Linked DNA regions of Homo sapiens. The protein of the gene in region 3 purifies or fractionates together with the protein of the main gene of each other region. This does not show direct contact. Each region holds a gene or a part of one and is shown on either strand. Other genes may lie near its edges. The genes, in order: DDX31, SRP9, DOT1L, PLEKHS1, POLDIP3, RFC3 and DIMT1.

Region 1 (4,252 bases), on a different chromosome or scaffold from region 3:
ATTCCTAGGAACCCATTCACCCAAGGAGAAAAGAGGGGTGGGGGAAAACGAATCTTTTCTCTCCACCAACAAAGCACACTGGAGACCGCACAGGAGAGAGGGGCGAGGGGGAATGCGCATCTCAGCCCGTGCCCAGGAAGCGGAAACATTCATTACCATTCTACCCTAGCGCCTGGATCTCTCTCATTCTCTCCTCTCAAGCTGCTCCTCCAGATTCAGACGGCCTGGAGAAAATTCCTACGCCCTGTTCCCATTCCAAATGAGAATGCTGCTCCATCCATCACCTCTACCACAATTACTTCCTACCTCCCTTGCCTTTCGAGTCTCTGAGTCCCCGAGTCTCTGCCTGATTGCGGATTACAGGCTACACAGCACTAGGGATCTCTTGCCTGTTGCTTCTTATTTCCATTACAGGAATGTGCTTAAATGCATGATGTCCAAACTTCCCCTAGGAGAAGGAACATCCAATTCCTCTATTTTCTTTGGCCTTCTTTTCTGATTTACAAATGAATATAAAAGCATCCCTTGAGTAGCCAGTGCTTGTTATTCTGGAGTTTTGGGTTCTCTCAGAATATGTTATTTTCCTCTTTGCTTGAAATAATGACTTGGTTTTACATGTCGGCTTTCTTTAGCCATGACTGTCAGCTTCAGACTAACCTACCAATAACAACAGTTCTTTGTTCCCTAAGGATTCTTTTACCTAAGTAATTAAATACAACTTCAAATATCTAATATTAATAAAGTAAAAACGGACATATTCCATCTTACAAATTTATTTTTTACAAAATCTCAAGTTTATGAATTTTCAGATTAAAGAAAGAGATGAAATCAAGTTTCAGGTTTGTTGAATCATTTGCAAGACAGTATGAAATGTGCAGACTTCACCTGATTTACAGACCCAGGACTCCTGGAGCACAAAAACTCTTAAAGGCCACTCCCGCCATACATGGACTTCCTGACAGTCCCGGGCAGGTGGACTGGCAGCCTCTCCCTGCACACCTCCTGCATCCCATGAGGCAGCCCATTCTGTTCATGACCCATTCTAGGAATCAGGAAGCTGTCTCTGACATTTATGCAAGATCTGCATCCTTGAACATCTACCTAATAGTCTGAGGTATACTTTCTGCAGCAACACAGAACAAGCTTACTTCCTCTTAACACATAACATTCCTTCATATATCACATAACTCTCTTTTCTTTCTTCTTTGGACTCAATATTTCAAACAGGACACAACTTTAGATCCTTTATCATCTTGGTCACCCTTTATTCCTATGTCAACATCTCTCTAAAAGCAAGTACTCAGAGTTAAACCCATTAGGTTTTCCATTGCTCTTAGGCTGAACTAAAAAATCTGTAATATTGCCAGGTGCCATGGATCATGCCTGTAATCCCAGCACTTTGTGAGGCTGAGGTGAGCTGATTGCTTGAGGCCAGGAGTTCGAGACCAGCCTGGGCAATATGGTGAAACCCTGTCTCTACAAAAAAATACAAAAATTAGCTGGGCATGGTGGTGCATGTCTGTAGTCCCAGCTACCTGGAGGCTAAGTTGGGGGCATCACCTGAGCCCGGGAGGTCAAGGCTGGATTGAGTCGTGATGACGCCATGATGCCACTGCTCTCCAGCCTGGGTGACAGAGTAAGACCCTCGCTCAAAAAAAAAAAAAAAAAAAAACTGTAATATGATCAACAAAGCCTTCTAGAATCTGACCTCTGGCCACCTCACCAGCTTCAGCTTTACTCTCTGCCACTCGGGTCTTCCTTCAGTTCCTAGAATGTGCTGTGCTCCTTCCTCCTCCTTTGCACATGCTACTCCCACATCCAGGACTCCACTCTGCCCTCTGGCTGGCCACCCTGTACTCATCCTTCAGATGGAGGCTGACCAACTCCTTCCTCAGAAGAGCCTTTCCTGACCTCTCTTCACCCAGTCAAGCCAAGGTGCTCTGTTCTTGGCTCTCCTGGCACCCGTATTCTCCTCCATAGCATTCGACAAAATAATAAGCATAGCACGGAACTCGTTGTTTTATGTCTGTCTTTCCCGTTAGATTGTAAGCTCCACAAGAAAGGGGCCAGTCTGTCCTACATAGCACTGTATCCCCTGTATAGGCCCCTGTCTGGCAGAGTAAGCACTCAACAAATACTTGTAAGATGAATGAATAACACACAATGGAATTATCCCTTTCCACCAGCTGGATACGGTTCTACTACTTGTTAGCTTTTCTCCCCCAGCATCCAAAACACATTCATTTAGCAGTTGTCAAGAAGCTTCGTTCTGAAGATACAAAGTAGATTTGCCAAGCCCTTGAGGAAGTTACACACTAGCAGAGGAGACAAAAGTATAAAGGCATAAATCCAACCTCTACATTGGTGCTACAGAAGAGGTACATAAAAAAGGCTATGAGAGCACCAACAAAAGCTAGACTAACATGGCCTCCTTCTGGCAAAGGAGAGGGAGGCAAGAAAACCAAGAATGCTTCGTGAGGTAGCCTCTGAGCAGAGAGGGAGCAAGGACATATCTGAATCTACTAAAAATTACTACTAAAAATCTAAAATCTACTAAAAATCTACTAAAAAATTCGTTTGAGTCTCTGTTGCCGCACCTGTAAAATGAGGGGATTTTGGCAGATGACCTCTAGGGCCCATCAAGACCTGAGAGTCTAAGATGCCATGGCTTTGATATTAATAAACATACTGAGTAGTTACTATATGCCAAGGAGTATACTAAGTACTCACATGTATTCTCTCATTTATCAACACAGGTACTGTTATCATCTCATTTTAAGATGCAAACATGGAGGCAGAGATGTGACGTAATTTGTCCCAGAATCACTGAAGGAACCAGGCTTTCCCCAGGCATCATGATTCTACATTCTAGAGGCCTCACAACAATACTATAATCCCTTTTATTAACTGCATCCTCTTTGCTTTAGAAAACATGTGTATGCTGGAAACTTACTCTTTCTGCTCAACATTATAGTTTTGCCTTGTATAGTCTTAATCCACATGGATTTGGTTTTTTATACATAGTGCGAGATAAGGTTCCAATTTCAGTTTTTAAATTCACACAACCACACAACCAATTGTTCCAGTGCCACTTATTAAAAATGTCAGCTTTTCCTAAGCAATTTGCAGTGTCATCTCGGTCATGAATAAAATTTCCATTTTTGTATTGGTCTGCTTCTGGGCTCTCTTTTCTCCTTTGCTGGTCAATTTGTACAGTTTTGCACCTTATTCCAGACTGTCTGAAGAAATAGAGCTTCATAATAATTCTTAATTTTTGATAAGTTAAAAAAAAAAAAGAAAACATCATGTGTAGTGATTCCAATTTTGAGTTGTTCTCTAAAAGGACATACACCAAAATGGCAACAAGCATTGTCTGAGTATGGCAATTATGAGTGGGTTTTTAAAAATCTTTTTTCCTAATTTTCTATAATAAATTTGTATTAATATCAGAAATTTTTTTTTGTTTTGCTTTTGTTTTGAGACAGTCTCACACTGTCACCCCAGCTGGAGTGCAGTGATCTCTGCTCACTGCAACCTCCACTGGTTCCTGGGTTCAAGTGATTCTCGTGCCTCAGCCTCCCGAGTGGCTGGGATCACAGGCACCCACCACCACACCCAGCTATTTTTGTGTTTGTTTTTTGTTTTTGTTTTTTTTTTTTGAGACAGAGTCTCGCTCTGTCGCCCAGGCTGGAGTGCAGTGGCGCAATCTCGGCTCACTGCAAGCTCCGCCTCCTGGGTTCACAGCATTGTCCTGCCTCAGCCTCCCGAGTGGCTTGGACTATAGTCACCCACCACCAGCCACCACACCCGGCTAATTTTTTGTATTTTTAATAGAGACGGGGTTTCACTGTGTTAGCCAGGATGGTCTCGATCTCCTGACCTCGTGATCCACCGGCCTCGGCCTCCCAAAGTGCTGGGATTACAGGCGTGAGCCACTGCGCCAAGCCTTTTTTTTGTATTTTTAGTAGAGATGGGGTTTCACCGTGTTGGCCAGGCTGGTCTCCAACTCCTGACCTCAAGTGATCTGCCTGCCTCGGCCTCCCAAAGTGATGAGATTACAGGTGTGAGCCACCTCGCCCAGCCCAGAAAGTATTTTTAGAGAGAAAATTTCTGCATAGTGTTAGATACAGCATAATTTAAGCTGTTAGTCTTTCTAAATCCAGTATATTAGCTACCCATCTCAAGTTCAGGCTACTGGCAAGTCTCATCAGCATATCCATCATTCTCATTCACGACATCAATGAAAATGTAG
Region 2 (4,252 bases), on a different chromosome or scaffold from region 3:
CAAGCGATCCTCAGCTTCCTGAGTAGCTGGGACTACAGGCACACACAACCACACCTAGCTAATTTTTCTATTTTTAGTAGAGACGGGGTTTCTCCATGTTGCCCAGGCTTGAAGATATTACTTTTAAATCAAACCAAATTCTTCCTTGTTAGCAGTTAAATTCTTCACTAGATACTTAAGATCTGCTTATGGTTGGTCATAAAGCCATCTGTTGTAGAATCTTCAAAAACAGCAACTTTAAGCTGGCAGCCCTTTCCTCATTTTGTAGTACAGATCCACTTTTCTTCAGCCCATCTTAAAGGTTCACATGAGTTTTAAACAACAGGAACTAATGATCCTATAATAAAAGTCAACAACTTAAATAACTTGAAGTTCAACCTCATCATGCCCAACTGATTTTTTTAAGTGAGCCTTTTAAACAACTCACTTAAAAAAATTTTTATCCACGCATTGTACAAATTTGTGCGGCAATCTTGTAAAAAGGCCATATTAATCTTCATCATCAAAATTTTAGCACATGTCCTATGAGAGAATGTACATACCTTCTCACTGAAATTTCTGACAGAAAAAGATTTTAGGTCCATAGAAGACAGTATTCTAAATCAATTATGGGATTAGAAAAATGATGGATACATGGGATTATAAAAAAGTCGAAGTTAACATGGATCCTTAATTATATTCAATCATTAACAGGGCAAAAAGAGCCATCAATTGGAGATAAGGCCTTTTGTATTAAAATTCGTTCTGCATTTATTCCCTTATTTTATTTTTTTTGAGACCGAGTCTAGTTCTGTCACCCAGGCTAGAGTGCAGTGGCACAATCTTGGCTCATTGCAACCTCTGCCTCCCAGTCCCAGGTTCAAGCGATTCTCCTGCCTCAGCCTCCCAAGTAGCTGAGATTACAGGCACCCACCACCATGCTAATATTTGTATTTTTAGTAGAGACGGGGTTTCACTGTGTTGGTCAGGCTGGTCTCGAACTCCTGACCTCATGATCCGCCCACCTCAGCCTCCCAAAATGCTGGGATTACCAGCACGAGCCACCGCGCCCGGCCTATTCCCCTATTTTTAAGACAGGACATAGGGGTTTTTCTTCAGCAAGTATACCTAACCACTCTGTGACAATCACAATTAAAATTTTTCTGTGTGGAATGTCAAGATTTAAGAAGTACTTAGTGGTTCACACCCATAATCCCAGTGGTTTGGGAGGCTAAGGCAGAAAGATGGCTTGAGTCCAGGAGTTCCAGATCAACCTGGGCAATATAATGAGACCCTGTCTTGACAAAAAAATTTAAAAATTAGCTGAGTGTGGTGGTGCACACCTGTAGTCTCTGCTATTCAGGAGGCTGAAGCAAGAGGACCGCTTGAGCCCAGGAGGTCGAGGATGCAGTGAGCTATGATCATGCCACTGCACTGCAGCCTGAGCAATAGAGCAAGACACTGTCTCTAAAAAAAAAAAAAAGCAATCAACCAACCAATCAACAAACAAAAGAATACATGTACTCAATCTACCAAGGGTAAGCACTCATGTTAGATACTTTCATATATTTTTTTACTATCACTATGATACTTTACAGATGAGGAAATTGAGACCAGAAGGCTAAATTTTTGGCCTAAACTTTTCCAAGGCCAAAATGCTAGTAAATGACTAAGCTAGGATTCACATCTCTTCAATCTATGTCTAGTATACTACATCTCGATTCACTCTTCCTTTTCCACATGTTTAGCTACTCACTACATTCAATTGGTTCTTAGAAGACATGGTAATCACTAAAAGGTCTAACTTCATGCAGTCTCATCATAATGGAACCCTGAACACAAATACAATATATGACCAAAGACAAAAAGTGATTTTTAAAATCACTCTATAAAATTTTCAAAAGAACTAACTATTTAAAAAATGTTTACTGAGTGCTCTCTGGGTCAAGACATCATAGTAGGCAATGGAAATAAGACATGTAAGAATATTACTGATCTATCTCTATTGTCTTGAAGGGCAGTCTATTAAAAAGACAAATGTGATAAAAGAATTGTGATACAGCACAAAAAGCCAAAATGAAAAGCAAGAAATGAAGTAATCCTCAAGTTGGGTTTTGAAAGATAAGCAGCAGTCTGGCCACATTAGGGGTGGAGGTGGGATTCAATATTGCAAAGGAGGAAACAGAATGTTTGAAAGCACTGAGGCCTAACACATCACAGCACATTAAAGGAGCTCTTACATAATACAGAAATGACAGAGATTAGAGAGGATGCAAGGGTGGAGTTTAAAGGTTTCTAAGCAAGGGAGTAACAATCAAATTAGCCTTTCAGAAATCACTCTGGGGCTGGGCGTGGTGGATCACACCTGTAATCCCAGCACTTTGGGAGGCCGAGGTGGGTGGATCGCTTGAGGTCAGGAGTTCAACTCCAGCCGCCTGGGCGACATGGTGAAATCTCATCTCTACTAAAAATACAAAAATTAGCTGGGTGTGGTGGTGCCCACCTGTAATCCCACCTACTTGGGAGGCCGAGGCAGGAGAATTGCTTGAACCCGGAAGGCAGAGGTTGCAGTGAGCCAAGAATGAACCATTGCACTCCAGTCTGGGTAATAGAGCCAGACTCCTTCTTTAAAAAAAAAAAAAAAAAAAAGTCCAGGCACAGTGGCTCACGCCTATAATCCCAACACTTTGGGAGGCCAAGGCGGGCAGATCACGAGGTCAGGAGTTCGAGACCATCCTGGCTAACAGGGTGAAACCCCGTCTCTACTAAAAATACACAAAATTAGCCAGGCGTGGTGGCGGGCGCCTGTAGTCCCAGCTACTCAGGAGGCTGAGGCAGGAGAATGGCGTGAACCCAGGAGGCAGTTTGCAGTGAGCCGAGATTGCGCCACTGCACTCCAGCCTGGGCGACAGAGCGAGACTCCATCAAACAAACAAACAAATAAAAAGAAAAGGCCAGGCGCAGTGGCTCACCCCTGTAATCTCAGCACTTTCAGAGGCCAAGGTGGGTGGATCATGAGGTAAAGAGATGGAGACCATCCTGGTCAACATGGTGAAAACCCCGTCTCTACTAAAAAAAAAAAAAAAAAAAATTAGTTGGGCGTGGTGGTGCACGGCTGTAGTCCCAGCTACTCAGGAGGCTGAGGCAGGAGAATCACTTGAACCCAGGAGGTGGAGGCTGCAGTGAGCAGAGATCGCCCACTGCACTCCAGCCTTGCAACAGAGCGAGACTCCGTCTAAATAGAAATCACTCTGGGCTGTGCACTGTGGCCCATGTGTGTAATCCCAGCAACTTGGGAGGCTGAGTGGGAGGACTGCTTGAAGCCAGGAGTTCAAGACCAGCCTGGGCAACATAGCGATATCCTGTCTCTAAAAAAATTTTTTTAATTAAAAAAAATCCCCAGATTTCTGACCACGTGGAAAATAATGCAACTAAAGGTAGGAAGGTAGGAACAGAAGAAGCAGCTAGTTTTTTTGTTTGTTTTTTTGAGATGGAGTCTTGCTGTGTCACCCAGGCTGGAGTGCAGTGGCACGATCTCTGCTCACTGCAAGCTCCACCTCCCAGGTTTATGCCATTCTCCTGCCTCAGCCTCCTGAGTAGCTGGGACTACAGGTGCCCGCCACCATGCCTGGCTAATTTTTTTGTATTTTTAGTAGAGATGGGGTTTCACCGTGTTAGCCAGGATGGTCTCGATCTCCTGACCTTGTGATCTGCCCACTTGACCTTCCAAAATGCTGGGATTACAGGCATGAGAAAGAGCTAGTTTAAGAACAGATGATAGGCCGGGTGGGGTGGTTCATGCCTGTAATCCCACCATTTTCGGAGGCCGAGACGGGTGGATCACGAGGTCAGGAGATCCAGATCATCCTGGCCAACATGGTGAAACCCTGTCTCTACTAAAAATACAAAAAAAAATTAGCTGGGCGTGGTGGTGGGTGCCTGTAGTCCCAGCTACTCGGGAGGCTGAGGCAGAAGAATGGCATGAACCCGGGAGGCAGAGCTTGCAGTGAGCCGAGATCACACCACTGCACTCCAGCCTGGGCGACAGAGCAAGACTCCGTCTCAAAAAAAAAAAAAAAAAAAAAAAAAAAAAAAAAAAGAACAGGTGATAAACTCCACTGTAGATAAGTGAATTTTGAGGGTATGTGAGATACAGATGCTAGTCAGAAAGTCAGAAGAATATGAACTAAACACACATTTGCAAGTAGACATAGACAGATGCAGTATTAGACTCAGTTAAATGAACTGCTCCAGAAGCTGTTATGAAAAGACA
Region 3 (3,898 bases):
GAAGTGAAGGAGAGGGGAGGGGCAGCCAGGGAGCCCCCACCCAAGGGAAGTAAGGCTCAGGGTCCTGAGAGGCAGTGGCTGGGCCTCCTGCACTGAGGGGAGAGCTAGAACCCCCAGCCAGGACAGGTGGAGGCTGGGACCCAGGCCTGGGGAGAACAGAGCTGCTGTGTGGTATCAGGAATCCTGTGGTGACCTGGGGTCCTGCCTCTGGCATTCACGGGCCCTCCCGGAGTGTGGCTGGGGCCTGGGCGGGCTTTGGTCCATCTGATGTGAAAAGGACTTTGCCGATGTCATTGGGGTCGCAGATCTGGTTTTCCGTTCATCAAAAGGCACTTTGCCTGTGGCCTGGTGCCCTCATAAGCCTCCCCTTGCCTGTGGCCTGGTGCCCTCATAAGCCTCCCCAAGGCCAGGGTGTCCTGGTGTCAGCCCCCGGAGCTTCTGCTAGGAGCACCCCTAGGCCCTCCACTCCCCGTTTCGGCGATGACACACTAGCCGGGGCCTCTCACTGGCCGCCAGGAGACGCCTCATGCCACCTGGAAGAAAGGCTGCCATTCACACCAGGTCCGAGTGAAAACAGTCTGTTTATTACAGCGTCTAGAGGTGGGGATGCAGAATGCAGGGGTGCCCAGAGGAAGGGGCGCCTGCAGCCCAGGGGCGGACCGTGACAATGCGCGCAATCCAAATACAGTTCACCCGGAAGACACGGCAGAGCCTCCCACGTTACAAAGGCTGACACAGACCAGCAGCGTGTTGTGTTGGGAGGGGGGTCTGACCACGATGGCGAGGGCAGTCGGCGGGGGGTGGGGGGCCTGCTGACCACTGAACAGACTGACGCATCCTGGGGGCAGATAAATTAAGGGGGAAGTCTTAAATAAGTCACTGTGCGTGCCTCATGGGCCGAGGAGGGGGTATCCTAGTTTTTAGGGTTCCTATCAATTCCTGAGCAAGAGCCACTCCCAGGCGCCGCCCGCCCACCCACAGTCAGCAGCAGCAGCACAGGTCCCCGCCAGCTGCCCACGGAAACTCAGGCCAGGTGCCAGCACCAGGCTCCAGATCCCCAGTCTCCACAGCCACCCTGCCACCCGCCACACACCACCCCTCAGTCTGGGAGTGTCTGAGAAGAACACAGGCCCAGGGCTCAGAACAGGAGGGTGTCCGCAGGCAGCCACCACACTAGTTCACGTGTGGTGACACGCATATGACCCAGTGGGCTCAAGGAGACTTCTGCCTGGGCCAGTGGCTCTGAGACCCAGTGCGTGTCCTGAACATACGGTGGCCTGCGTGGGCAGGAGCCCTGCATGGCCATCTGCAGGACCCGTGATGGCACCCGGACTGCCACTGTCACCTAGAGGGAGGCAGAAGTAATACAGTGTTTAAAGAATGTGTCTTGTTCTAGACCAGGGACTCGGCCGTCTCTGCCATCAACCCTGTGGCGTATCCGGCCCGTGGCGACACAGAGCAGGCTGCCTGTCCTGAAGGCCAGGCTCGGGGCTTGGGGCTCAGGCAGAGGCACAGCACCTTCTAGCTGAGAGCACCAACGTGGGGTGGGGAGGGCACTGGGCACCACTTAAGAGGACAGGTCCGGAGCACCATCTTCAGAACTCAGCTATGTTGGAGGGTGGGGGTCTGAGAGGTTGTTGGGGGCTGGGGGAGGCAGCACCCCCCTCACCAGGCACAAGCAGGGGTCTTCAGGCCCTCCCACACAGGACTCCCCCACCTAGCAACCACAGAAGCCTTTCCTCCGTGGCTCCCTTTGGAGGCCACGTGGTAGGGATGTGACGTGTGTCCATCCTGCCCTTGGGAACCAGAACACAGGGCTGGCAGCTCCCTGGAGGGTGGATCTGTGGCACCTTGGGGAAGGGGCTCCCCGATGCCATCTCACAGGAGCAAGCACTTGAGAAGGTGGGCTCAGCAAGTGCCACACAGCCCAGGGCCAGATGCGGGGAGCTCAGACTCCCAGATCCCATCCTCCAGGGAGGGCACAGAGCCACCACTGCTCAGACAACCCAGGCCCTGACTGCTCAGGGCTCCAGAAGCACTGGAGTGGCCCTGCCTGCCTGCTACACCCCGGCCTCAGCTCCTCTCCTTCCACACCCAGTCCCAGGCACCCGCCAAGGCTGCAGAGTGGGGGGCCGACGTCACCCTGGGGCCTAGGGCCAGAGAGGCCAGGTTTCAGCAGTGCACCCTGGCCCCAGCACACCCACAGCAGCTGGGAGAACCAGCACAGGCTCCAAGGGATGGGTGCCAGGCGTGGCCCTGACAGGAAGGGATGTGGGGCAGGCAGGGGCGCCGGCAGCTCTGTCTGGGCTGCTGGGAGCTGCAACTGAGGGGTCTAGGGTCGGGGCTGACGCTGGGGCCATTTTGTGCACTGTTTGAATAAATAAGGTTTTTTCCCCTCGCTTTTCTTTCCTCTTCACTGTGCATTATACCATCTAAAAATAAAAGCTGTCAAATCTATGAAATTTATAAATTCTCATCACATCTCTATAAAATACTGCCACTCATTAGTGTGACTCTCTCCTGTACAGAAACACCAAGGGACCCACGACAGGCCTGCCCCGCATCGCAGGGCATGCTGCGAGCCATGGACAGCCGAGAAATACAAAAGTAAATGCACTTGTTCAACGTGCCCGCGCCGTCCTCACAGCACCATCGCGCAGCACATGGCCAGCTGCGTCACCGCGCAGGCCCCTTCACATGCAAGGGCGCAACCCACGCCCCGGAGGGTGAACAGTCTGGGGGTTCACAGTGCCGGGGTAAAGGTGAAGAGCTCAGGGCAGGCGCCAGGGCGCTCAGGAAGGGGCTCAGGCCGCGGGGAGGCCTCCGAGGAATGTGGTGGCGACGGGCCTGCCTTTGGTACGGGAGCAGCGCGTCGGGGGAGCCGGCCGGGCGGCGTTTCCGAGAACGGGGTTCGGCGTTGTCAGCGTCTAGTCAGCACCAAGCGGGTGGAGGCAGGCGCGGGCCTGGGGACGAGATAGCACCGGGGCAGGCTGTGGCGAATCCGCTGGCGGGCCCGCCCTGCAGACACGTGTCTTTATATAGAGCTCTCATATATAGATATTTATATTTCTCAATAAGTTGCCTTTTACCACTTAGATGGAATAAAATAAGTCAGAATTGTTTATACTTTTTAAAAAATGATAAATACTTTATCTAAAACTATCGACAGTACAAACTGGACCAGTCCCAGCCTCCTGCGGCGCGTGCCGCCGATTCACAGTGGAGCTCCCGTCCGTCCTTGCCTCTGCCGTCCAGGGGTGGGAGCCCGGCAGGCCGGCGGGCACCATGCCGCGGGCGCGAGTTGGTCCACACCGTCCTTGCATAGGTCTCGCGGTTGAGGTAGAAATCCTAGTTACCTGCAGAAGGGCACAGCGGGAAGAGCGGCCTGAGGTTACCATCGCGCCTGGGGGAGCCCAACACTCACCCAGGCTGGGGACCGAGGCCTCCCACGAGCACACACGCCACCTGGGGCCAGCACCATGACAGGCATAGTGCCAGCTCCTCTAACCACAACAGACGACGGGCGTGCCCCGTGACAGACCAGGGAGCCTGACACCTGGACACGCCGGCCAAGCTCCAGCCTTCCTCCAAAGGAGACACACAGCCGAGTCCAGCTAAAGCCACCCTACCTGCAGCTCATCTCCTAAGAGACCCAGCATAGCTTGTCCAGCCCGCAGGTGCCCGCATTGACCCGCCAGGCTGACCAGCCCTGGCCACAGCCTCCGCCTTGGCTCCTGGCTCCCAGTCCTCCTCTCCTTGCCCGGTGGGCTTTGGACTCGCCCAGGAAGGCCTGTGTCCCAGGGGCCCCTGAGGCAGAAGGCCAGGGGCAAGCAGAGGGCACCTTTGCACTACGCCGCCAGGCACGCCATGTCCCTGGAGGGCACGGGTGGCCAACTGC
Region 4 (4,252 bases), on a different chromosome or scaffold from region 3:
TCTTGATTGAAAACTCTTAGCAAACTTATTTAAAACATTAAAAAATGCATCCAAAATAAGTAAAAATAAATAAAACATCCAAATGGAAAAGAATGAAATAAAATCATTTCTATTTGCAAGTGACATAATCTCATATGTTAAAAATCCCAAAGAATCCCCAAAAACTACTAGAGCTAATAAATTCAGCAGTATTCAAGAACAACAGACAAAAATTAGCTATATTTCTATAAACCAGCAATAAATAATCCAAAAATAAAATTATGAAAACAGTTCCATTTACAATAGCATCCAAAAGAAAAAAGTACCTAGGGTTAAATTTAACTAGGCAGATAAAAAGACTGGTACACTGCAAACTAGAAAAATTGCTGAAATAAAGAGACATAAATTAATGGGAAAACATTCCATATTTATGAATTGAAAGACTTAATACTGTTAAGATATAAATACTACCTAAAGCAATCTATAAATTCAATGCAATCTCTATTAAAATCCCAATGGCATTTTTTATCTTGTAAAACTAGAAAAGCTAATCCTCAAAATCATCAAAAATACCAAGGGGCCCTGAATATCCAAAATAATCTTCAAGAAGAACAAAGAGTACACACACTTCCCAATTTCAAAACTTACTACAAAGCTACAATAATCAAGAGTGTCGTTTTGGTATAAGGACAGATAAGACACATAGGCCAATGGAATAGAATTCAGAGTCCAGAAACAAACCCATACATTAGTGGTCACGGCCATTCAATGGGGAGAGAACAGTCTTTTCAATAAATGGTGCTGGGCCAACTGAGTATTCACATGCAAAAGAATGAATTTGGACCCCTATGTCATCCCAAATAATGAAGTTAACTCAAATAAATGACCTTAACATGAGAGCTAAAACCATAAAACTTTTAGTAGAAAACATAGGTGTAAATTTTTATAATCTTGGATTTGACAATGTATTCTTAGATATGATACCAAAAGCACAAGCAACAAACAAAAAAGATAAACTAGACTTCATCAAAATTAAAAACTTTTGTGCATCAAAGGATATTATTAAGAAAGTGAAAAGACTACCTACAGAATGGGATAAAATATTCAAAAATCATATATCTGACCAGGGCCTACTATCCAGAATATATAAAGAACTCTTACAATGCAACACAAAAAGACAAACAACTCAACTAAAAAGTGAACAAAGAACTTGAACAGACATTCTTCTAAAGAAAATAAGCAAATAGCCAATAAGCACAAGAAAAGCTGTGCAATACATTTAGTCATTAAGGAAATGTAGATCAAAATTAAAATAAGAAACCACTTCATGCTCACTAGGATGGCTATAACTTTTTTCTTTTTTTTTTGAGATGTAGCCCAGGTTGGTCTGGAACTCATGTGCTCAAGCAATACTACTGCCTTGGCCTCCCAAAGTACTGGGATTATAGGCGTGAGCCACCACACCTGGCCCATTCTACTCTTAAGTAAAGGAATATACAAATACAAAAGCTGGTCATGAATGTTGATAGCAGCTTTATTTGTAATAGCCAAAGACTGGAAGCAACCCTGATGTTCATCAACAGGTGAAAGGATTAACACATTGTGATACATCTATACAATGGAATACTATATGGGAATAAAAAGAAACAAACTATTGACAGATGCAACGACATGGGTAAATCTCAAGATAATTATGCTGAGTGAAAAAGATGTCAGACAGAAAGTGTTCATACTGCATGATTATATAAAGTTCTATACAAACTAACATATAGGGATAGAAAGCAGATCAGGGGTTGTCTGGGGAAGTATGACTGCATGGAAGAGTGGGAGGCAGGGGACCAAGAAAACTTGTGAGGTTGATGAATATGCTTATTATCCTGATTTAGGTGATAATTTTATGGCTGTGTACATTTGCCAAAACTTATTAAATTGTAGACTTTAAACATGTCAGCCTACTGTATGTCAATTATACCTCAATAAAGCTTTTTAAAAAATCTAACAAATTTGAATGAAAAGTAAGCATACTCCAACCATATGACCCAGCCATTTTGATTCTAGGTAAAATAAAGAAATATATGATTTTACAAAAATTAATGCACAAATGTTCATATTAGCTTTATAATAGGCGAAGACTGGAAGCAACCTGGATATTCAACAGGTGAATGAATCAACAAATTGTAGTACATCCATATAATGGAATACTACTCATCAAAAAAATGAACTATTTTTGCACTATTGGTGCACTCAATACCAGGGATATATTTTTAAAAAATTATGCTGAGTGAAAAAAGTCAGACAAAAGGGTGTATGCTGTATGATTCCATTTATGTTAAACTCTAATAAATACAAACAAACTTACAGTGAGAGAAAACAGAACAATGGGGACTGGGATTGGGTGTGCAGAAAAGGATTACAAACAGGCACAAGAAAACATCAAGAGTGATGAGTGTGTTTACTATTACCCAGGCTGGAGTGCAGTGGTATGATCTTGGCTCACTGCAACCTCTGCCTCCCAGTTCAGGTGATTCTCTTGCCTCAGCCTCCTGAGTAGCTGGGATTACAGGTGCCGGCCATCACACCTGGCTAATATTTGTATTTTTAGTAGAGATGGGGCTTCACCATGTTGGCCAGGCTGGTCTTGAACTCCTGACCTCAAGTGATCTGCCCACCTCAGCCTTCCAAAGTGCTAGGATTACAGGCGTGAGCCACCGCACCCGGCCACATTTACCATCTTGATGATTTCCCAGGTGTCACACATATCAAATACAGGCAGACCTCATTTTGTTGCACTTCACTTTATTGTGCTTTGCATATATTGCTTTTTTTTTTATTTACAAATTGAAGGTTTATGGCAACCCTGCACTGAGCAAGTCTACTGGGACCATTTTTTCAAGAGCATATGCTTACTTAGTGTCTCTGTGTCACATTTTGGCAATTCTTGCAATATCTCAAACATTTTCATCATCATCATATCTATTAGAGTGACCAGCAATGAGTGATCTTTGAGTAATTGTTTTGGGACAGTATGAATGGTGCCCATATAAGATGGTGAACTTCAAAAATGTTGTGTGTGTTCTGATTGCTCCACTGACTGGCTATTCCCCCATCTCTCTCCTCTCCTTGGACCTCCCTATTCAATGAGACTCAACAATATTGAAATTAGGCCAATTAATAACTTTACAATGGCCTCTAAGTGAAGGCGAGTGTCAAGTGAAAGGTGAGTTACATGTCTCTCACTTTCAATTAAAAGCTAGAAAATCCTAAGGCCCTTAAGAATTATACTAAATCTACTCTACTTGTGCTCTATCAGTGCAACAACAAAGCCTGGGTGACAGCATATCTGTTTATAACATGGTTTAATGAATATTTCTAGAAGCCCACTGCAGAGACCTGCTACTTAGAAAAAAAAAGATTCCTTTCAAAATATTACTGATCATTGACAATACACCTGGTCACCCAAGAGCTCTGATGGAGATGTACAAGGAGACTAATGCTGTTTACATGCCTGCTAACACAACATCTATTCTGTAGCCCCTAGATCAAGGAGTAATTTCAACTTTTAAGTCTTATTATTTAAGAAATACATTTCATAAGGCTATAGCTGTTGTAGATCGTGATTCCTCTGATGGATCTGGGCAAAGTTAATTGAAAACCTTCTGGAAAGGATTCACCATTCTAGATGTCATAAAAATATTCATGATTCCTAGAAGGAGGTCAAAATATCAACATCAACAGGAGTCTGGAGGAAGTGGATTCCAATACTCCTCGATGACTTTGAGGGGTTCAAAACTTCCTTCAGTGGAGGAAGTCACTGCAGATGTGGTGAAAATAACAAGAGAACTAGAATTAGAAGTGAACCCTGAAGATGTGACTGAATTGCTGCAATCTCATGATCAAACTTCAACAGATGAGGAGCTGCTTCTTACGGGATATGAAAAGAAAGTGTTTTCTTGAGATGGAATCTACAGCTGGTGAACATGCTGTTTATTTTTGAAATCACAATAAAGGATTTAAAATATTACATAAACTTAGTTGATAAATCAGTGTCAGGGTTTGAGAGGATTGATTTCAATTTTGAAAGAAGTTCCACTGTGGATAAAATGTTATCAAACAGCACCACTTGCTACAGAGAAATTTTTCATGAAAGTACAATCAATCGATGTGGTCAACTTCATTGTTGTCTTATTTTAAGAAATTGCCACAGCCAGCGCATCTTCAGCAACAACCTGCCTGATTACTCAGCAGCCGTCAACATCGAGGCAAGACCCTCTGC
Region 5 (4,252 bases), on a different chromosome or scaffold from region 3:
AAAAAAAAAAAAAAAAAAAAAGATAACTCAAAGGTAGGAATAACAAATGTTTATTCAGAAATGGATAAGTAATACATAATCACCCTTCATCTCTTAATGCCCCTTCCTCTCCTTCTGCACAGGAGACACAGATGGGTAACATAGAGGCATGGGAAGTGGAGGAGGACACAGGACTAGCCCACCACCTTCTCCTCCCGGTCTCCCAAGATGACTGCTTATAGAGTGGAGGAGGCAAACAGGTCCCCTCAATGTACCAGATGGTCACCTATAGCACCAGCTCCAGATGGCCACGTGGCTGCAGCTGGACTCAATGAAACTCTGTGACAACCAGAAGATACCTGCTTTGGGATGAGAGGGAGGATAAAGCCATGCAGGGAGGATATTTACCATCCCTACCCTAAGCACAGTGCAAGCAGTGAGCCCCCGGCTCCCAGTACCTGAAAAACCAGGTCCTACTGCCTTCTGGATGCTCTCTTGGGCCAGGAAGGGAAAAGTGTGGGAGGAATGTCTTCCAGCTGCTAACGAGAAGTCTGCACCCACTTGAAAGGGTTAGGAGAATAAAAAGCAGCATTCTTTAAAGAACTGCAAGTGGAGCACCACCAGGCCCCTTCCTTGGACTTTCCCGTCCTGGGCAGCCTCAGAGCCTGCACACTGAAGCTGGGTTCAAATCCTGGGTCCTTCCTGCCTGACAGACTGACCCCTGGAAACATGAGTCTCTGGTTTTTTTCACTGGGCTAGCCTCAAGCAAATCTTGGGAGCTCTTGAGTATCTTCGGCATGTGCCTTTTCCAGCACTTGCTACTGATTTTGCAGAGCTCCCAGAACCGTGCTCCCCAACTGGCTCCAGCTCTGCCAGCCTGGATTCTCTTCACTCCCAACCAGCAGGGGACCACTCAGTGACAACACTGGCCTGGTCATTCAGGGACTGCCTGGGCTCTGAAGTTTCGTCCCAACTGTCTGCGCCTATGCTGGGGAAACACCTTGCCTGGTAGAGCTGCCCTGCTCCCTTGACTCCTCCTCCTCTGCCAAGGCAGGAAAATAATCCTCTGGTCATGGATGGATGGGGTCACTCACATAAGTGGGAACAAACAGTGCCCCTTGGTGGCAGCTGGATATATGCCTCCAGGCATCCCTGACCACTGTCCTGTAGACAACTGAGGCCAGAAATGGAGAGCCAGGAACAAACTGACCTCTTCCATTCAAATAAGCTCCAAACCCAAGCACTGCACAATGGGAGGCTGAGCCTTTCAAAGGCCCAACCAGAAGAGAGCTGGCGGCTACACAAAACCAGGGTGTGGTTAAGTGCCAGGCGAGGTGAGAACCGGGAGGGCTCACAACACAGCCCCCTCCCAGCAAAGACACCCAGAAGGGAAAGAGAGCTGGGGTGGGGCATTCAGCACAACTCAAGGAAAAGGGAAAGGTGAACTCTGGAGAACTTCCTCTGGGTGGAGACGACACGGGACTCCAAGCCAAGAGCTTAGATAGACTCTTCCCAGCGGTGCAGCCTCATCCTGCCCTTGCCACTAGTGAGGCCTGGAGCCACTGGGGAGAGGACAAGAGGCCTGAGACCTGCTCCCCACCCAGGCACCTCCACTGACAAGACAGAGGAGCGGCACAGCTCTCAGGCCGACCTGGCTCCCGTCAGGACACCAGGGCTCTCCATCCCCTCCATTGTTTGAAAAGCTTAATACACACAAAGGAAAGGCAGCCCCTCGGCCCCTGGAAAAAGCAGGGTCCTTCAGACAGCCCCCACGCTGCATCCCATGGGGCCACAAGAAAGCCACCCAGAGAATTCAGTGTACCATTTCCAGATAAGAAATCAGCTTGGGGCTGAGGCTCGGGGAGGCACACACTGAAAAACACAAGCCTACCTTGGCGATGAGATGAAGAAACATACTACAGGAAACGTTAACGTAGAGAGAAGAGCACAGGGCAGAACACAACACAGAAAGGCGGGTCCCATCCAGTGAGGAAGCTCTTTATCCCTGGCAACCCTTCCCACAATCAGGGGTCTCCAGTCCGATGGCCCATTGGTCATAAGCTTTGCCTTGGGGAAACAGAGCCACCCTCCTCTGCCCCCACTTCTGGCTGCCTCACTCCCCTGCTCAAAGCTTGATTTTGAATTCTGTGGGCTGCGTGGTCACAGAGGCCCCTGAGGACTTGAAGAGTGCCTTCAGGATGGTGTCAGGGTCCACTTCGGCAGGGGGGTTGGAGGAGGAGGCAGAGTTCACCCTGCGAGGCAGCTCGCTCTCCTTTTTCATTGATGGGCTGTCACTCAGCCGCCTGTGGAGAGCAGAGAAGAGTCAAAAATTCTTGTCAGTTTTTCCTTAGATGGGGAGGGGACCCACCATTTACTGGGCATCTGTCATGAGCTAGGCACTGGGTGTAACACTTTCCATACCCCTTCATCTCATTCCACCTCGCAGCAAACTCAATCACAGCTCACATCAGCCTCCATCTCCTAGGCTCAAGCAGTTCTCCTGCCACAGCCTCCTAAGGAGCTAGGACTACAGGCGTGTACCACCATGCCTGGCTCATTTTTAAAATTTTTTGTAGAGACCAGGTCTTGCTATGTGGCCCAGGCTGTGTTTTTCTTATTTACTGATGAGAAAATGGAGACGCAGGCAGTGCTGTATGTTCTAGGGTTTTGTGGGGTTTTTTTGAGACAGAATCTCACTCTGTCACCCAGGCTGAAGTGCAGTGGCATGATGATGGCTCACTAGTCTCGATCTTCCAGGCTCAAGCGATCCTCCCACCTCGGCCCCCCAAGTAACTGGGACTATAGGTGCATGCCACCACACCTGGCTAATTGTGGTTTTAAGTTTAGGAAACACTGCATGTTCCTTCTGGATGGTAACATCCATTAGCATATTACACAATCTGAGAAGCCCGAAAGTGAAACAGATGTAACTCTGTTTAGCCCAGTAGTTCCCAAACTTATTAGGTTACAAAACCCTAAGAAATATTTCTTATTCCTTGAACACAGTTTAAGAACTTATCCAAATCACATAATTCATTACCCAGGGTTCAAATCCTAGTCTTTTTAAATCTCAAAGTCTATTTCAGCCCTGCCCCACACTATCCCACTCACCCTGGCAAGTCTAACCTCCTCCCTGGTATCTGCTTCCTTATCTAGAAGGTGAAGTCCTCACAGTCTCAACATTTTATGCATCTCAGGCTTCAAAACATCCCTCAGTCCTGGGCCAGGCATGTATACTCAGCTGTGTGCAACAAAAGCCTTCAATGGCTTCCCACTGTACTTAAAAGCCAAATCCAGCTGGGCGTGATGGTGTGCGCCTATAGTCCCAGGTCCTCAGGAGGCTGAGGGGAGAGGGTTGCTTGACCCCAGGAGTTTGAAACCAACCTGGGCAACACAGTGAGACTCTCAAAATAACTGAAAAAGCAAAAAACAAACAAACAAACAAACAAACAAAAAACCTCACTGGGGAACAAAATAAGGGGTAGCATCTGGCACTGTCTCCATCAGAGCCAATCATGCAGTGGAGTTCTCTGTTCCCGGGATGATGCACACAGCTAGGAGACCCAAGCAGCCTCCCCCTCCAACTTCCACTCAGATATTTCTAAATCAGAAAGCTGAGAACGAGATCATAATGCTAGTCCCTATAGGGTCAAGCCCTGGGGAAATAACAAAGCAAACCATTTTGGTCAAGTTTAAGCATATGAAACGGCCAGCTGCCATTAGAACAGAGGAAACGGAATGGGGGGATGAAGGGGAGCTGTGATGCAGGCAGTTTACCCATTAGAACAAAAAGAGATGGACGGAGCTGCCTCTCCCCAGCACCCCGCCTTTGGAACTCACAGCAGGATGGGCTGGTCTGAGGTGATAACATTCCCATTCATGTGAAGGTTGCACTTCATCGGCTGCCCTGAAAAACCAAAGAAAGAAAAAGGCTCTGCTATGAGACCTCGGCTCCTCACACAAGAGGACAAGGGCTGTACCTCCATTATCAATGGTCAAAGCACCCACCACTGGCAGTTCTGGCTCCACAGATGGAGATGGGGCTGCTAGGTTCCAGTCAAGCCAGACACTAAGAAAATCCCAGGGCGTGAGGAAACCTCAGCAGTGGAGCACCAAGAGGCAAAGTGGCCACAAACCTTGCTTCATACAGGAAGAGATGAGTGGGAAGTGAGGGAGAAACGAGACTCAATGTGAAGCCATCCAAGTAGTAAGGGAAAAGGTTTATGCTATCAAATTCAGTGAAAAGATGATCAAAAGCATTATGTACAGGCTT
Region 6 (4,252 bases), on a different chromosome or scaffold from region 3:
CCTGTACTTAGGGAAGGAGAGGAAGGCCAGAGAGTTTTTTTTAGGTCTGGGGCTCTACAGCTACCTCTTGTATTATTTTTACAAAGTGATAAAAAATATATGACACTTTACTTAAGGCCAGGAAATTGAGACCAACAAGACCCGATCTTGCCAAAGGAAGAAAAAAAAAAAATTAGGCTCATGCCTGTAGTCTTAGCTACTTGGGAGCTGAGGTGGGAAGATTGCTTGAACCCAGGAGTTTGGGATTGCAGTGAGCCATGATCAAGCTACTGCACTCCCGCCTGGGTGACAGAGTGAGACCCTGTCTCTAAAAAAATAAAATAAAAAAATAAAGTAAATAAATGACCTTGTGTTCTGAGCTCTATTCCCTATCTTATTTTCTGTCACCTTTATTGGGATTCTTTCCTTTGTCTCTCTTTTACCTGTTCTCAATTTGGTCTGGGATTTCTTCTCATTGTGGAGCATTGTCTTAGTCTGGAACTCCTGTCCTCAAGCCATCTTCCTAGCTCGGCTACCCACAGTGCTGGGATTACAGGCACAAGCCACTGCACCAGCCACAGCCACCTGGAACACTGTCTTAGAAGGGAACTTCATTTTGGTATTCTCAGAGTCTGCTGTTCTGTCAAACCTTACTGCATCAGGGTTCCCTTGCTCTCACCCATAAATTGGGCTCTGTCGAATCTCCCCCCTCGGTAAGACTGCTGCTTTCTTTGAGACAGTGTCTCACTGTGTGGCAACAGGCTGGAGTGCAGCGGTGCCATCAGAGCTTACTGCAGCCTTGACCTCCTGGGCTCAAGTAATCCTCCCACTTCAGTCTCCTGGGACTACAGGCACACACCACCATGCCCGGCAATGTTTTGTATTTTTGTAGACATGGGGTTTTGCTATGTTGCCCAGGCTAGTGTTGAATTCTTGGGCTCAAGGGATCTGCCTTCCTCAGCCTCCCAAAATGTTGGGATTACAGGCAGATTACAGGCATGAGCCACTGTGCCTGGCCAACTGCTGCTTTCAAATTGGCCGCACCATGGTTTCTAGTATGTTCCCGTGGGTGATTTTGAGCTTTTCCTGTCATAAAGTCTGTCAAAATCTTCCTCCCACACCGTTGCTGATACTATGTGGGCCTTTCCAGTTTTAGTTGCTTATTCTCACTTGCTCATGTTTGGGGTTCTTGGGTAAAGCTTGTTGCCTGGTTTCTGTATAATGTTCATGGGTTCTTTGTTTTGGAATCTTTAGTTGTTCTGTTTATTTTTATGGGGCAGATCTAAATGCTACATGCTGCCAGTTCATCTTCTAGAAATAATTTGTTAATATAATGAAAAATACAATATTGGATTCAGTTTCTGTGTATACATTATTCCTGAACTATGTTAAGGCTGATCTGTGATTGTGGCCAGATGGAATCTTACTTTATGGTGGCCAGATATCCTCATGCCTTGTTGCCTACATCTCTTGCACCACTGTCTTCCAAAGTCTATTCCTTGGAATTTAATATTTTAGATTAAGGTGTACCACAGAAATGTGCTGCTGAGTAAAGTTATTTTGGGGAAATGCAGCACAGTACTTCCTTGTCTTGGTAAATTTTAGCGCATATAAATAATAAAGGTTGCAATGATTTCTACTACAAAGTGACCTTTTAACTTCATTTAGCCTAGTGTTTCTTGGTCTTGTTTGATTATAGATTCTTTTCTTTTTTTTACTAGCCCTGCCAACGCAAGGTCTCACAATATTAAAAACTCAGAGCTGTTCCTCTCTATAGAAGTCTTTAGTAAAAGGCAAAATATTTATATGATCTGAAGAGAAACTGGAGTATGATTGTAGCATTTTAAAATAATAAAGTAATTTTACCATACTTATAACTTTATCTTTGCCAATGGGAAGAGTAGTATATCAGGCTTATTATTTAGGATTTCATCCTGGATAATGAGAAGGAAGAAAGAGACAAGTTAAAGTTTGAGTGAACTCAAGTTAAAGTTTGTTTTGTTTCTCTTTGACTCAGTGGTATTATTGACAGAAGTTGACAAACTCACCAAAGATGCTCAGCATGCCTTGCGAAGAACCATGGAAAAATATATGTCTACCTGCAGATTGATCTTGTGCTGCAATTCTACATCTAAAGTGATCCCACCTATTCGTAGTAGGTGCTTGGCGGTTCGTGTGCCTGCTCCCAGCATTGAAGATGTAGGTCAAGTTACACTTTTCTGAAAAATAAATCAGTTCAGATTCTCTGAATATTGTATGCTTGTTGTAAAAGAAGGGAATCGTATCAGTAATTTAAGAACACCTACAGACCTGGATGCAAAGCATTAATATGTGAACAAACCAAAGCGTATAGTTGTAAATACCAGATGCCAATATATAGAAAGTGTTTTTCCCTTTAAACCATCTTTACTTTGAACAAGTAGGTATTACGAATTCTACTAAACTAGGTAAGGGCTAGTTATTTACTGTCTTCTTTCTCAAGCTGATTTAGTTGGCTATAAGAGGAGGCTGGAATATTGAGGAAACAGATTTTGCAAAGAGATGATGTGGGAATACCTAGTCCCTAGGAAGGGAATTAAAGTTAGTATGAAATAACATTAATATGAATATATATACATAGATATATTTTTTTCTCCATTCTTAACAGCCATCAGCAAAAATTATGATTCCTCACATTAAATATCTTTCCAGCTTTTAATAGATTTTGGGAGATTTCATGCAAAGTAGGGATAATATGCAACATTGTGTTAGATGCAGAGTGGTAAGTTACTTTTAGTGTAAGTTTCACTTATAAGAATTTTGAGAGTAATACAGTTATAAGGGTCTAGGAGGATATCAACAGAAATGAATCTTAATCTGCTTTTTAATGGATTGCCCATTTTTGTTAATTTTATTTGTAGATTTGCCACGTGTTATCTACTGTGTGTAAGAAGGAAGGTCTGAATCTTCCTTCACAACTGGCTCATAGACTTGCAGAGAAGTCTTGTAGAAATCTCAGAAAAGCCCTGCTTATGTGTGAAGCCTGCAGAGTGCAACAGTGAGTGGAAGGGGTAGTTACATTCTAGGACTTTGGCCCCCAAGCTTTTTGGCACCAGGGACCAGTTTTGTGGAAGACAATTTTTCCATGGACTGGGCAGGGGTGGGGGATGGTTTCAGGATGAAATTGTTCCACCTCAGATTATTAAGCATTAGATTTTCATTTGGAGCGTAGATCCCTTGCATAAGCAGTTCACAATACGGTTCACGCTCCTATCAGAAGCTAATAACATCACTGGTCCGACAGGAGGTGGAACTCAGGCCATAATGCTGGCCTATCCGCTGCTCACTCCTGCTGTGCAGCCCGGTTCCTAACCGCACGGACCAGTGGTTGGGGACTCCTGTTTTAGGACATAAGCACACTTCTGTTTAACTTCTTGTGTTCTCTTTTTGTCATGTAGATATCCTTTTACTGCAGATCAAGAAATCCCTGAGACAGATTGGGAGGTGTATCTGAGGGAGACTGCAAATGCTATTGTCAGTCAGCAAACTCCACAAAGGTACCAGTATAAAATGATGACAGTAAAGCTTTCATTATCAGGATATCATAGGACACATATTAACTATTTTATGCTAATGTCATTTTGAATTATAATTAAATCCTGAATCTATGTATTAACTTTTTAAGGAAAATGTAGCATTTAACTTCAGAAATTTAGTGGTTCAGAATAGTTGGTGTGTGATATTATGGCTTTTATTAAGCTGTAATATCATGGCTTACATGTGATCATGTAAAAGTGGAATTTATATTAATTTTAATTTTCCTTTTAGGATCTCAGATTACTTAACATTAACATACAACACAAAGCTAGAGATAATGTGCGTAGCTTTCTAGTAAAGGACAATGTAAAACTTTGTAATCAATGATGCATCATGTGCTAGAAAGACACCAGACTATAAGTCAGACTTCTAGTTCTTGTCCTGAACTCCTAGCTAAGTGTTCTTGATCAGGTAACTTCATTTTAGAGTTTTATCTTCATTTGTATATTGAAGATATTATTATTGCCTCACCAAGGGTACTTTTGCATTTGTTGTGAAGAGCAAAAGAGTTATTAATGGTTTGAAAACTAAAAAACCCTGTGCTTATAGATGACCATGCGTTCTACTAAGGATAGCATTGTGTATATACCATTTTTACTCAGGAAGTATTTTTTGACACATTTGCTCAAAATTGCTTCCGTTACTTCTGTAGGTCTATTATTTGTAGGTTGACCATTCTGAAAATACCTCAGCTGCT
Region 7 (4,780 bases), on a different chromosome or scaffold from region 3:
AGATCTATCTTTAGTTTTATTTTTATTTTTTGAGACAGGGTCTCACTGTGTCACCCAGGCTGTAGTGAAGTGGCAGGATCATGGCTCACTGGAGCCTCAACTTCCCAGGCTCAGGTAAACCTCCCACCTCAGCCTCCCTGCTAGCCAGGGCTACAGTCAGGCACCACCATGCCCAGCCAATTTTTTGTAGAGATGGGGTTTCACCATGTTGCCCAGGCTGGTCTTCAACTCCTAGGCTCAAGCCATCCACCCGCCTTAGCCTCCCAAAGTGCTGGGATTACAGGTGTGAGCCACCATGAAAGGCCCTCCCAGATCTATTATCCGCTTTTCTCTGCATCCTACAGATAATGCAGTTCAGCTCCCTTACCTTTCAACTTCTGGTTGGAATTGGCCAGTGAAAGGCACCAGCATTATAGGGTACAAAGGGGAGGCGTTGGGTATTTCCTTCCTAATTAAACTCCCTGTTGAGGCTGGGCATGGTGGTTCATGCCTGTAATCCCAGCACTTTGGGAAGCCAAAGTTGGCGGATCACCTGAGGTCAGGAGTTTAAGACCAGTGTGGCCAACATGGTGAAACCGCATCTCTACTAAAAATACAAAAATTAGCTGGTGTGGGGGCAGGTGCCTATAATCTCAGCTACTGGGGAGGCTGAGGCAGGAGAATCTCTTGAACCCAGGAGGCAGAGGTTGCTGTGAGCCAGGACTGCATCTCTGCACTCCAGCCTGGGGAACAGTGTGAAATTCCCTCTCCAAAAAAAAAAAAAAAAAAAAAAAATTCCCTGTTGAAATACCTAATGTGGTTTCTGTTTTCCTCACTGAAATATCTCATATTTTCCTTTTTTTTTTTTTTTTTTTTTGAGACAGAGTCTCACTCTGTCACCAGGCTGGAGTGCAGTGGTGCAATCCTGGCTCACTGCAACCTCTGCCTTCCGGGTTCAAGTGATTCTCCTGCCCCAGCCTCCCAAGTAGCTGGGACTACAGGCACCTGCCACCACACTCGGCTAATTTTTGTATTTTTAGTTGAGATGGGGTTTCACCATATTGCCCAGGATGGTCTCAATCTCTTGACCTCATGATCCACCTGCCTCGGCCTCCCAAAGTGCTGGGATTACAGGCGTGAGCCACCGCGCCTGGCTGAAATATCTCATATTTTCTAAGACAAAATTTCCAACAAGGGATCAGGAGTTACTACTAAAATAATAGCAATTAGTTAAAACATATTTAGATTGTAAACCAACTGAGCTTGCTAACATAGTCATTTGTGATACCAAACATTAAATCCCCTTTCTACCTTTTTTGCCTTTTCTAACAACTTTACAGTCATGTTGCCAGTTCCAGGTCCAACTTCCAGCACTACATCAGTTGGTCTTAAGGCAGCCTAAAAGCAAGCACAAACACTTTAGCTCTTCTGGCAACATCAGAACACAGAAGTTAATTTACACCTGAACATCTTTACTCATATGTGCTCCGATAAGAGCTCTTAATCTGACTCCATTTTTAGATTTCTTCATGATCTACGTGGTTAACAAAATTACCTCAATAACATTTGGTGCAAATGAAAATCTAAGACCTCTCCTAACTTGGAGGAATACTGTTCAACTTTAGGAGTCAGAAAAGCAGCAACAGCATTTCTGGGATTGGCATTCTGCTTTCTATCTGGAAATATTCCAATAGCCTCTTGTTACCTTCTCTGTTCGTATCAACAAGTTCAAATGGGAAAGGACTGTACGTGTTGGGCGAAGATTTTTCAATTTTCAACCCATGTATGGTTTCAAGGATGCAGAAGAGCAGAAACTGTACACAAAATTGAATGTCTGCACACAGCTCTAATATTCTACGGCCATAGCTTTCATCAGATGCTCAAAGGAAACTATGAGCTAAAAAGGTTAAAATAGTACATGACCCTTCTTTCTTTTTTTCTCAGTTTTCAAATGACACGAAGCCTGACAAGATCCTTTAACTATGTAATGCTCTTTCTACAGCTCCAGGATGCTTTCCTTGCTTTTAACCATAAGTGTAATCTGCACCGTGTGTATTTCACTTCCTAACACCCAATCATCCATAACCATAAGAGAACATCAATAACTCAGAAAGCAGTAATACTCCAAGCAATTTATATGTGGTACTAGCATACACCAAATAATTTATATGTAGTACTATATGTTTTTCTGGGGAACAAACTTTCTAATGTGTAGTTTAGACATAAATAGATGGAGTACATAAAAACTAAGTGATCAAAAAGGTGATTAGAAATAGAAGAATAATTATCTTGAACAAATACAAAGGTCCAGCTATAAAGTAGATAATCCACAAAAAGACACAGAATTGGGAACCAGGAGAAACTCAGACCCACAAAATGAAGCTTATCATGCAGAAGACAGCCCAAGAATCCTAGACAATTATTTGATTCATTCAACAAATATTTACAGAGCATCTAATTTACGGCAGGCAGACTTTCTGCGCTTATGTATTCATAGGAATAAAATTAATAAACCAACAACTCTCTCCCTTTCCTCTTCCACACCCACCTTATCGATAATGCTGTTAATAATGAGAGGATTTTTCAAAATGTGCTGCCCAATCCCCGTGTTGAACATGAGTCCTGTAAGAAAATACGAAACAGCATTAATTTTCCTACTGAGATTAGATATTAGGCAGTACCAGAGAAGAAAGCTGCATGGGTATGGGGAAGATTTCTGCGCCAACCAGGGCCACGAAACGTCACGCCAGGACTGACAAACTCTTTATAAGTTCATCCTCCAGCTGGAAAGGAAGTCAGCGGCGACGCGCAGGGCCTGCGGCCGAGTCGGGGACCCACCCCTGCCTTCCGCGCTCACGGGAGCGCGTCCTGACCGGCCTCTGCCGATCAGGTCTTGGTCCGCACCCCAGGCTAGGTCCTGCCGGAAGACCTGACCCGACCGACCCCAGCTTCCTCGCGGGGATCCGCACCTCCAGCGCTCTTCAGCTCCCGGCGCTGCTCCTGCCGCCCGCGGCGGCGGCCGATGGCCCCCGACTTGACCTTCGGCATCTCGGCAGAAAGCGGGCCCACAGGCCCGGGACGTCAAGGAGGACCAAAGAGGGCTAGCGTGAGAAAGCCACCACGTGGGGATCGCCGCCACGCGCCGCCCGCACCACTCTGGCCCAAGCGCCGGAGGGGCAAGGGTCCGCCCCCTCCCGTACGCTCTGAGCTCCTCCTCCAGAAAAAGGGCGGACCTTGGAGCCCACTGACTGCCGGGAATTGGAGTCACAGAGGGAGGAAGGCCGAACCGCGGGAGCCTACAGATCCCAGAAGACACCGCGCTACCGAGGACTGCAGTCTGGAGTTGGAGCCCTTGTCCCAACCAGGGCTGGATAAGAAGGTGTTGGTGTGGTGCTCTCGGTGTTGCGAAGGCTGTTTAAGTTATATGATGAGGTTAAGCCTATGGATGTTTTAGTAGCCTAGGTTCTGGGATCGCTGAGGTCCAAAGAAGTATTCACGTGCCTCGCTCCTGTTTTCCTGAAGCTTGTGGGGGTGGGAAACCCGGGATTTGGGGATGAGCTTGCTCTTTTGTGGGAATGCATTTTTTGCTGCTTGCCCTGGGGAAAAGAACTGCGAGAATGGAATTAACGTCTGGTTTCGCTAGGGCTACTGGTTGCTTCTACTAAGAATAGAAGAGCCGGGCGCGGAGGCTCACGCCTGTAATCCCAGCACTCTGGGAGGCAGAGGCGGGCGGATCACAAGGTCAGGAGATCGAGACCATCCTGGCTAACACGGGGAAACCCCGTCTCTACTAAAAATACAAAAAATTAGCCGGGCGTGGTGGTGGGCGCCTGTAGTCTCAGCTACTTGGGAGACTGAGGCAGGAGAGTGGCGTGAACCCAGGAGGCGGAGGTTGCAGTGAGCCGAGATCGCGCTACTGCACTCCAGCCTGGGCGGCAGAGCGAGACTCCGTCTCAAAAAAAAAAAAAAAAAAAAAGGAATAGAAGAATAATTATCTTAAACAGATACAAAGCTCCAGCTACAAAGTAGATAATCCACAAAAAGACAGAATTGAGAACCAGGAGAAACTCAGACCCACAGAATGAAGCTTATCGTGCAGAAGACAGCCCGTGAATCCTAGAAAATTATTTGATTCATTTAACAAATAATTCAACAAATTCCTTTTGTGCCTCATCATTCACTCCGTAAACATTTATTGAGCTCCAACTGTGTATCAAACACTGCTAGGGATTCTAAGTAAGAAACTTATTTCAAAGTGTATTATATTGACAGAGATGGACAGAAACTCCAAAACGCTGTAAATACGATAACGTATTGGTCGTTGTGACAGGACAGTGTACCTGACTATAAACTCCGTGTGTACCAGGGCCATAATATCCACATCTGTTTTGCCAGCCAGTGTAATGGCTCTTTTAAATTTTTCTGTGTGTATTCTGTTTGGTTGAAGAAATAGCTTCTTCCTGTCATTACTAAAGCTAACTCTCTTTTGAGCAATTCATTGTGTACATTCCCAAACCTTGGTCTTAGGCCCTTCTTTCTTTGATGTAGTTCTAAGTCAGAAAAAAAATCTCGTATACCCTAGTAGCATCTTCAAGTATATGTTTCATTTCATCAATCATTGTTATTCCACAATTCTAAAGAGTACACTGTGCTAGGCACTTCCAAATGTTAATAGGATGGACATGGCCTGGAGAGGTGGCTCATGCCTGTAATCCCAGCACTTTGAGAGGCCAAGGCGAGCGGATCACTTGAGCTGAGAAGTTTGAGATCAACCTGGGCAACAAAGTGAGACCCCGTCTCT

What was found.
Region 1: the proteins of DOT1L (region 3) and DDX31 purify together in Homo sapiens (affinity purification with mass spectrometry, with the first as the bait; one study listed by BioGRID). This does not show direct contact.
Region 2: the proteins of DOT1L (region 3) and SRP9 purify together in Homo sapiens (affinity purification with mass spectrometry, with the first as the bait; one study listed by BioGRID). This does not show direct contact.
Region 4: the proteins of DOT1L (region 3) and PLEKHS1 purify together in Homo sapiens (affinity purification with mass spectrometry, with the first as the bait; one study listed by BioGRID). This does not show direct contact.
Region 5: the proteins of DOT1L (region 3) and POLDIP3 purify together in Homo sapiens (affinity purification with mass spectrometry, with the first as the bait; one study listed by BioGRID). This does not show direct contact.
Region 6: the proteins of DOT1L (region 3) and RFC3 purify together in Homo sapiens (affinity purification with mass spectrometry, with the first as the bait; one study listed by BioGRID). This does not show direct contact.
Region 7: the proteins of DOT1L (region 3) and DIMT1 purify together in Homo sapiens (affinity purification with mass spectrometry, with the first as the bait; one study listed by BioGRID). This does not show direct contact.

The regions. Positions count from the first base shown.
Region 1 is NC_000009.12:132,663,066-132,667,317, forward strand, and holds part of DDX31 (ATP-dependent DNA helicase DDX31), read right to left. Parts: intron 353-4,252; exon of another isoform or gene 307-352; intron 262-306; exon of another isoform or gene 160-261; coding exon of another isoform or gene 157-159; intron 1-156. UniProt on the Homo sapiens protein: May have DNA helicase activity and RNA helicase activity. Probably have ssDNA and RNA dependent ATPase activity. Plays a role in ribosome biogenesis and TP53/p53 regulation through its interaction with NPM1.
Region 2 is NC_000001.11:225,784,056-225,788,307, reverse strand, and holds part of SRP9 (signal recognition particle 9 kDa protein), read right to left. Parts: intron 1,447-4,252; coding exon of another isoform or gene 1,339-1,446; exon of another isoform or gene 1,323-1,338; intron 1-1,322. UniProt on the Homo sapiens protein: Component of the signal recognition particle (SRP) complex, a ribonucleoprotein complex that mediates the cotranslational targeting of secretory and membrane proteins to the endoplasmic reticulum (ER).
Region 3 is NC_000019.10:2,229,243-2,233,140, reverse strand, and holds the end of DOT1L (histone-lysine N-methyltransferase, H3 lysine-79 specific), read right to left. Parts: exon of another isoform or gene 3,357-3,898; coding exon 3,349-3,356; 3' UTR 2,979-3,348; coding exon of another isoform or gene 2,529-2,978; 3' UTR 563-2,528; downstream 1-562. Other genes in the region: PLEKHJ1 (pleckstrin homology domain-containing family J member 1), read left to right, coding at 2,529-2,978. UniProt on the Homo sapiens protein: Histone methyltransferase. Methylates 'Lys-79' of histone H3. Nucleosomes are preferred as substrate compared to free histones. Binds to DNA.
Region 4 is NC_000010.11:113,757,569-113,761,820, reverse strand, and holds part of PLEKHS1 (pleckstrin homology domain-containing family S member 1), read right to left. Parts: intron 1-4,252.
Region 5 is NC_000022.11:42,583,687-42,587,938, forward strand, and holds the end of POLDIP3 (polymerase delta-interacting protein 3), read right to left. Parts: intron 3,887-4,252; coding exon 3,820-3,886; intron 2,283-3,819; coding exon 2,105-2,282; 3' UTR 35-2,104; downstream 1-34. UniProt on the Homo sapiens protein: Is involved in regulation of translation. Is preferentially associated with CBC-bound spliced mRNA-protein complexes during the pioneer round of mRNA translation. Contributes to enhanced translational efficiency of spliced over nonspliced mRNAs.
Region 6 is NC_000013.11:33,827,840-33,832,091, forward strand, and holds part of RFC3 (replication factor C subunit 3), read left to right. Parts: intron 1-1,996; coding exon 1,997-2,178; intron 2,179-2,879; coding exon 2,880-3,016; intron 3,017-3,416; coding exon 3,417-3,515; intron 3,516-4,252. UniProt on the Homo sapiens protein: Subunit of the replication factor C (RFC) complex which acts during elongation of primed DNA templates by DNA polymerases delta and epsilon, and is necessary for ATP-dependent loading of proliferating cell nuclear antigen (PCNA) onto primed DNA.
Region 7 is NC_000005.10:62,400,746-62,405,525, forward strand, and holds the start of DIMT1 (dimethyladenosine transferase), read right to left. Parts: upstream 3,161-4,780; 5' UTR 3,028-3,160; coding exon 2,949-3,027; intron 2,602-2,948; coding exon 2,528-2,601; intron 1,378-2,527; coding exon 1,291-1,377; intron 1-1,290. UniProt on the Homo sapiens protein: Specifically dimethylates two adjacent adenosines in the loop of a conserved hairpin near the 3'-end of 18S rRNA in the 40S particle.